Regions from separate parts of the Homo sapiens genome. Here region 2 is linked to region 1. The links come from fine-mapping of genetic effects on gene expression. A gene starts in region 1. The other region holds a variant in brackets. All regions are shown on one strand. Distances are between the middles of the regions.

Region 1 (4,394 bases):
CCCAGCTATATTAATCATTGTAAATATGGTACAACTGAATTTTTGTAGCCCTAAAACCTAAAAGGAAGCTCAAATAAATCTCATACCTCTTTTCAACAACTAGAAAGAAAATATCTTTTAGGAATTTGCCAATTCAAAGCCATAAAGTAAGCAAACCAGGATGTCATCTTTTAGCATAGACATACTTTTTAAGGTATACTTTTTATTGAAGCAAAGCATACATAAACGTAAAACTACACACAGGCAAAAAATGCTGAGGCGAGCTGCTCCCTCTGCGATATTGGAGAGCACCTCCATGTGTCATCTGAGAAAGGGCCACAGTGAGGTTGCCCCAGGTTCTTAAAGGAAAAGCTGACTCTGGGGTGTCCCTTCCCCACCCAAAATGCCTCCCTGTTGCCATCTCCTTGACAAATCAGATGGAGGTGGCACATTTTTTTCCGTGATAATCTTTTGTGACCTTTCTATAAGACTCTTAATTTCCTTCTTGAAGTTACAACCAGAGGTTGGAAGTTTTTGCATTGGGATCAAGTATTCCATTATCATTATCCCCTAGGAGAGACAGCTTTACAATCCCATGTGCGTGAGGGGATTGGTAGAAAAGAGTATGACCTTCCTTCCACAAACTAAAAGCTAAAAGACTTTATTCATTTTTTTCCTTCCCAAATTGAAGCAATTCACTTCTAGACATCCTTGGCAGGAGCTCAGAACTGTTTATGCAGGCTCCATGCAGGCAAAATATTTTTTGATATCCTGCTTTTGGTTGAGTCATGGTAATGTTGGCAATGGTGGTGAGGGCAGGAGATCAAGTCATTTTTCAAAGTTCTAAGTAAATGATGTTCTAGTAAGATCAATATGAGAGAATTAAAGACTAATATAAAGTTTATCACAAGGCCAACATCTATAAGTTAGACCTTTTTTTCTTTTCCTCTAAGGGCAGTGGTTCTCAAATTTTAACCCATGTAAGAATCACCTGGAAGTCTTGTTAAACACAGACTTCTGGCTGGGCACAGTGGCTCACACCTGTAATCCCAGCACTTTGGGAGGCCGAAGTGGGTGGACCACCTGAGGTCAGGAGTTCGGACAGCCTGGCCAATATGGTGAAACCCCGTCTGTACTAAAAATACAAAAGTTAGCCGGGCCCTGGTGGTGTGCACCTGTAATCTCAGCTACACAGGAAGCTGAGGTAGGAGAATCGCTTGAACCCAGGAGGTGGAGGTTGCAGTGAGCTGAGATCGTGCCACTGCACTCCAGCCTGAGTGACAGAGTGAGACCCTGTCTCAAAAAAAAACCACGGACTTCTGACCCCATCCCAGAGTTCCAGGGGTTGGAGAGCATGGAGGGGGAAGATTTTTCCTTTCTAACAAGTTCTCAAGTCATAGTGATACTGCTGGTCCAGGGACCCTACTTTAAGAACTACCGACCTCAGGGAACCTTCACAGTAAGTATCTGTAATGAGTCCAATCAATGAAAACTTCAGTGAATTAGACTTCATTAGAATTACTTCAACTTTGTTTTGGGAAAGTCTATAGACATTTTTGTTTAATGCTGCATACATATGCATTATCTCCACCTAGGCATCAAATAAATATTCTTTGGGGTACTGATCTAATGAGAATACTGGTAGATATAAATGCTCTTCCATTTGCATTTTAATTATTTGAAAACTAATGTTCACAAATTCACTCCCTGGTGCTCTAATCATTTCCTCTACTATTCAATGCTTATCAAAGCAAGTCATTAATAAAATAGATCAACACAAAATGTTTTATGATGTGAAGAAAGTAGAGTCCCAAAGAATGCATCTCACAACCTTAGAGAAAATAAATGAAATAGAAACCTAGAACTGCTTCACTGAACTATGAGTGATGATTTGTTGAATGCCTCAAGAGGAAGTAAAAAGTTACATTTGCATCATTTCTGTATTTGATCAGCCGTTGTTTACCTGACTTGTTCTTAGGCTGCCTTAGATTCTGAGCTGGCTTCCCTTTAGGCTTTTTCATAAACAAATAACTGGAAATGTCTCTAAGGAGGGGAGAGACCAGTTCCTCATTGCAGCTGGTAGCAAGGTTGCTTTCACTCAGCCAGGAGGACGCATTGTTACAGGTGTGGAACTTGTTGCTCCGAGCCCTCGCCTGGCAGCTCACTCTGGATCTGCGGGTTCTGAGGAGCCTCGGGACCCACCTGGGTGCAGTTGCCTTCAGGGACAGACCATCTTACAGGTATTAAAGGCAACATTCAGCTGCTTTCTGGGTTTCTCTCTTGCACTTTCCTTTTGTCCTATTGCTATCAGTTTCGCTTGTTTTGCTGATCTCTCCAGGTCTCATTAGAATTAGTGAATCATTAACCTGCAATGGTTTCATTTCTAGTACAGTGAGATGGCTTCCCCAACAGTGTGGGTGGGTGTTTGCTGGATTCTCAAAGCTTGGAAGGTCAAAGGTTGGTGAATTTTCTTTATGGTGACCATGTATTAATTTCCTCTTTTAAACATAAAGAAGAGTTAGCATGAATGGATTGACTTGTTAACTTTTGATTCTACCAGATCCACTGGGTGTAGTCATTTAGGGAAAGCTTCCCAGGAGCCTTAGCCATTATCTCATTTAATTTCTGCAACAGGCCTGTGAGGGAGGTTCTTTGATGTCCTCTTGGTAAATGCTGCATGGCAGTTGGCAGAGGAGAAGTGGCTTGTCCTAGGTCACACAGCCAATTGGCGGTGATACTGGAAGAGAAACCAGACCCATTTCTTCTGGTGCTTGAGCTCTTCCTGCCTTTCTGCAAACCACCTCCCTAAGCCCTGCTGTTTTTAAAGTTTCTCCATTTCCGCAGTGCATCATGTCGGCAGTTACTATTGCCTTGGTTCCAATATTTAAGACAGTGGCTAATAAATAATTCTTACCGATGTGAATCCTATTGGCCATAAATAACTTCCTACCAGCAGCTACACCCCTGTGTCTGAACGACTACAAAGGAAACCCAAAGCCGTATCCTAACCCCTCAAAAGAGGAGAGGAAAAGGCCAGAAGGACAGAGGGGAAACCCAAAGACTAAGAAATCTGATCTAACTATTATGCAAGTGCCTATGCAAATATACTGAATTCCTTTAACATTGTTGCTGCCTAGAACTTGGACAGTCTTCTAAAGGAGAAAAATAATAGAACGGCCCTGATTGTATGTATGTGTGAAAGTACCTATTGATTCAAAATTAGCTGGGTGGGGTGGTAAGCATCCATAGCCCCAACTACTCAGGAGCACTGCAGCATGAGGATTCTGTGAGGCTAGGAGTTTGAGGTTACAGTGCGATATGATCACACCTCTGCACTCAGCCTGGGCGACAGAGCCAGACTCCATCTCTAAAAAGAAAAAAAAAAAGAAAGAAAGTACCTATAGATTTGATGCTCAGCTCAGCATTTGTTTGTTGGGAGAATGAGGAACTGGCCTCTCCATGTAGCAACAATGTACCTTATTTTATCAATGGTAGGGAGGGACCATTTCATACCTCTCCAGCAATGTTGGTATCAACCTTCAGAGCAGCCTCCAGGAATTACCAATCTAAAACCAAAACTAGTACAATCTCACCTTAACTGAACATAAGTTTCCTAAACTGGCATTGCCCTCTTTCCTCCACTCTGCAAAAAAGGGTACCTCATGGGTTTTAGTTCTACATGTGAAGTTCTATAACAATTGAGTCCTCAGCTCAAAATAAAGCAAACACAACATTAAGAATTTTAGATTTCTTTTGTGAATAAGAGTTGAATTGACGTTAGTTTGCATCTAAGTTGTTCCTCAAACAACTCACCAGTCTGAAATCCAGTACCTGTTAGTTTCATTTGGCATTTTAAAAAGGTTTTTATAGAGATGGGGTCTCACTATGTTGCCCAGGCTGGTCTTGAACTTCTAGGCTCAAGGGATCCTCCCGCCTTTGCCTCCCAAAGTGCTCGGATTACAGGCATGAGCCTCTGTGCCTGGACTTACTTGACCTTAAACAAGGTAAGAGTCAGGGAGTAAAATAAGAGACCACAAAGTCCCCAAAATCAATGTCAAGTCACAACATTGTCATGACAATGTCATAACATTGAGCTCCTCCTCTACTGATAGGAATAGATCTAACAACCTATTAATTATCTATTCACAAGGTTGTTGGACTTCTATGACTGACACAGATTAAAAGAAACAAAGAGGAGAGAGTGGTTGCCATAGGCAAGTACAAAAAGCATAGTGAGAAGTAAGGAATAAAAATTAGGGAGTACATTGGTGTGGGGCCATTTGGTGTGGGAGTGAATATTCAGATGCTATAGAAGCCTGTAACAATTATTGTATTCTCCACAGAACTATAGTAAACATAGTAGTAATCACTGTATTTTGGCAAAGTACTAGAATGATAGTCAACAGAATGAGGTC
Region 2 (4,394 bases), 49 kb after region 1:
TTTATTATTTTGGAACAGGGTCTCACTCTGTCACCCAGGCTGGAATGCAGTGGCACCATCATGGCTCACTGCAGCCTCAACCTCCCTTGCTCAAGCGACAGGACATATTTTCATCTGGGGCCCTTGAATCCTTTCACAGTTCCCCTAAGCATATTGGATACTTATTATAAAGCAAAAGTAGCCTCTATTGATCTAGACTTATCAATAAAAAGGCCTTTTATGTCCAATCTCTCTCAATGGAAGTGTTATTTGCCTTCCCTAACGGACCTGAAAAATGAAGTCAATAGAGAGATGAAAGGAAAACTTACAGCTTTACTTTTATAATGTCAAGCCATTCTTTTTGTCTCTTCTGAAGTTTTCTGAAATACAAATGCTTCCAACATCCCTGCCTGGATCCTTCTCTAAATTATTTACCACGGATGCTTCTTGCCAATTGTTACCTGGAGGAGTTTGGTGTTTTCACTTTGACCCTGAATACCAGTGCACGCTGGCAGCCACAGCTGTTCCCCACAGCAGGGCAATTTGGGGCAGTGGCCTGGGGCAGTGAGTTTTTTGGGAGGACAGGGGCCTAACTGCTGCTGAGAAATCAGTTACAAGAACTCCCAGCCACCCAAGAGGTCCAGGACCTGAAGGTAGCACTGGAACGCTGCTGCCCGTGAGTCAACATGGAAATCAGCCGCTAAAGCATAGCCCTGCTCCCCTCCACTCCCAGCCTTATCTTCATCTGTCGTGCTCACTTCTGTCTCCATCCCTGCCAACCTCAATGAGAACCACAGTCATTTGGAGGAGACCTTGGAGATCATCTAGCCAAGAGCCATCTAGCCACACTGGAGTCTGAGGTTGCAGTCAGCCATGATTGGACCACTGCACTTAGCCTGGGTGACAAAGTCAGACCTACCCTGTCTCAATAAATAAATAAATAAATAAAAATAAAACAGTTGGAAAAATTCTAATCCCATTAATATACATCAAGATAAAGTACATACATTCATAAAGCTTAGCCTCATGTGGTATGAAGGGTAAATTTATCCCACTGCATTTATAGGTCGATTTCAGGCAGCCCATAACACAACATAGGCTTAAGTTCTACAAGAATGTTGTTTACAACAGAGCATTGTAGAAGATTGAACATCGGGTTCAGACAGGTCTGAATTCAAATCCTACCTCTGCCCTAGAACAACCATATCTTTCAGCACGTTGCCTAATTTGTCTAAGAAGAGAAATCGGAGGTCCAGAGAGAGAAGGTGGTCCTTGGAGCCTGGCTTCTGGAGCTCCATTCACCATGCACTGTGAGCTCACTCTCATGGCCAGCCACCTGTACACAGGGGAGAGGAGAAGATTGAATTGTAGACAGAGTCTTGCTCTGTTGCCCAGCCTGTAATGCAGTGGTGCTATCTTGGCTCACTGCAACCTCTGCCTACCGGGTTCAGGCAATTCTCCCACCTCAGCTTCCTGCGTAGCTGGGATTACAGGCGTGCGCCACCATGCCTGGCTAATTTTTTTTTTTTTGTATTTTTGGTAGAAACGGAGTTTCACCATGTTGGCCAGGCTGGTCTCGAACTCCTGACCTCCAGTGATCCTCCCACCTCGGCCTCCCAAAGTGCTGGGATTACAGGCATGAGCCACCACGCCCGGCCAAGAAGATTGAATTTGGCAGAATCCCCATGATGAAGAGCCCAGGATGTTTTCCAAAACATCCAGCTGAGCCAGGTACTATGGCTCACACCTGTAATCCCAGCACTTTGGGAGGTGTGCAGATTGCTGGAACCCAGGCGTTTGAGGCTAGCCTGGGCAACATAGTGATATCCAGTCTCTACAAAAAATTTAAAAATTAGCCAGGTGTGGTGGCCTGCACCTGTGGTGTCAGCTATGTGAAAGGCTGAGGTGGGAGGACTGCTTGAGACCAGGAGGTCAAGGCTGCAGTGAGCCATGATCATACCACTGCACTTCAGCCTGGGTGACAGGGCAAGATCCTGTTCCCCATCCCCCTTAAAAAAAAAAAACAGCTGATAGTGTGGGAGGAGAGTGAGACCCCACCTCACCCCACCAAGGACATGGTCAAGCTATGAAAGACAAATGCAAATTGCTAGGCAAGAGGCTAGGAGATAAAAGGGGAGGGTTTGTTTAAGGGGGAAGAGAGAAAGAACTCTCTCTTTCCAAAGAAGAGAATAGAGCCAGCAAAATAGTAGGGTCTCATGGGCTGTGTATTTGACCCCTCTTCACAACCCAAAATCTTCAGTAAAATAAATACGTATACTCACAAAACATGTCATGAGGGGGTTTACAGCAGAAACTAACATAGGAAACCAAGGGGATATGTTTGTTCCATGTTGTTCAGGGAAGAAACAGTATACATGGAAACAAGAGTCCAGGAGCCAGAGGAAGATGTTAGAATCTCAGTCCCATGAGTTGGTAAATATCTAG[G/A]GGAGGAGTTTAGACCTCCACAGGCCATTGGATTGGTGGGGGGTTGAGCTAATTGTACCTAGATCTTCAAAATGCAAGGACTGACACGTGGGCTTGAAGACATCTCTGGGGATGCAGCAGGAGTCTCCTGCAGTGTGCCTGGCCCACCTGAGGATGGCCCTGAAGGGTCTGGGTCACAAGGCAAAGGATTTAACCTGGAGAATGAAAGGAGAATGGAAGGTGGAAATGAGGCAACAGCCTGCAGCAGGAGAAATATTTAGTGTAAAGGCAGGATCCCTGTTGTAGTCAATTCAGGCTGCTAGAACAACACACCATAGACTGGGTGGCTTATAATCAACAGGAGTTTGTTGCTCACAGTTCTGGAGGCTGAAAGTCTCCTGGTGCCAGCATGGTTAGGGGCCGGTGATGGCCCTTTTGTGGGTTGCAGACAGCTGTCTTCTCGCTGTAGCCTCACATGGTGAAAAGAGAGCTAGAGAGCTCTCCGGGACCCCTTTTATAGGGACACTAATCCCATTCAAGAGGGCTCCATGCTCATGGCCTAATCACCTCCCAACAGCCCCACTTCCTAATGCCGCTCCACTGAAGGTTAGGATTTTATTAGGTTGGTGCAAAAGTAATTGCAGTTTTTGGCGTTAAAAGTAATATTAGGTGGATTTGAAGGAAAGCAAACATTCAGTTGATATTAATCCCTTTATCGCTGAACTCAGGGTCAATTTGGTGTGAGTGTTCAGGGTAAGAGAAGAGGAAGAGAACACACACACCCCTATACTCCTTCCTGATGTACCCATCTGCATGCTGGCCAGCAACCACGTCCATGCCTCATTTGCCACCTTCATTAAAGCCAGAGCCCCTTACGTTCAAGGAAGCTCACATTCAAAGAAACAGCACAGCAGATAAAACAAGCGTAAAAGCTATTCTCATGTTTACTCAGGTTTCTCAAACATCATTTATGGAACCCCAATGGATAACCCATGGCAATACTTACTACAATTACTAAATTACTAAAATTTCTTGTCTTCCCCGGTGCTGGCATACCCTAGAACTGCCTCTTCTTCCAAACCCCAACTCCAAACTCTCCCTATTGAAAATTGTCCGCATCTCTACCTCTCTCCTCTCCTCTCTTTGTTCTAGATCAACTGAGCCTCTTCAACTTCTATCTTCTATTTTCATTTCTCTTCATTTTCGATCATTACCCTGATCCTCCCCAACTAAGAGGAGTCAAGGAACTGACCCAACAAGCAAGAATCCTTCCTTTTCCCTTCTGCCTCTCCAGTCTCAATTCTCAATTGTCCTAACTGCATCACAACAAGGATGGGACCAAAGCTGATGAAACCAGAACTCTCCCCTGAAGGCCAGGGAAGAAAAGCCAATGGGCAAAACTAAATTCACTCTCCAATGAGAAGGGTAAACAAGGCTGGAACCCACCTATTACTACATCTTATCACTACTGCTAATGGAACATGCACTTTTCAGGGGATTTAATTTGTGGCTTATAAATTGTCCCAGCAAACTCACAAGTAGGTCCTGCAGTTACTGAGTAAAATCTCCAAGAACCTCTCATATCCAGGCTTCTTAGTGGCTCAGTGGGAGAGGTGATCATTCTGATATGGCTGCTTTTGCCTTCCCCAGTGGTGTGAGCAGAATGAACAATGCAGACGGCTCCACGTGCCAGAGCTGCTAGTGGCCCCACTACAGAGGCTCACTCGATATCCGTTGTTGCTGAAGAATATCTGGAAAAGGAGCATGGACTCTGCTGAGAAAATCATGATCTACTCCATCAAGGAAAAGGTGGAAAAGTCCATCCGTAAGTCCCTGAGATAAGTGAGCTTAATTACAGAATTGTGGCCTTGTGACTCCTGGAAACCTTCTGGGCTTCCATCCTAGGAGGTAATTCCACTGATTTGAGGTCATGGCTCTTGGAAATGTGGGTTCAAGTGTGAGTGCATTGTAAATCAAATGCGCACAGAACA

Evidence for each region. PIP is the estimated chance that this variant, and not a neighbour inherited with it, causes the effect.
Region 2: its variant is the best candidate, but not a certain one, in a credible set for the expression of PLEKHG7 in tibial nerve (GTEx, PIP 0.76).

The regions. Positions count from the first base shown.
Region 1 is chr12:92,700,914-92,705,307 of GRCh38, forward strand. It overlaps PLEKHG7 (pleckstrin homology and RhoGEF domain containing G7), which reads left to right and starts at 2,076. Exons shown (of 17, transcript NM_001377329.1): 1 at 2,076-2,219. RefSeq lists an enhancer at 2,217-2,276.
Region 2 is chr12:92,750,037-92,754,430 of GRCh38, forward strand. PLEKHG7 (pleckstrin homology and RhoGEF domain containing G7) reads left to right here. Exons shown (of 17, transcript NM_001377329.1): 11 at 4,054-4,228. Among named protein-coding and RNA genes, the nearest start is that of PLEKHG7, 49 kb to the left of the region's middle. The variant G/A (reference allele first, on the strand shown) is at 2,425.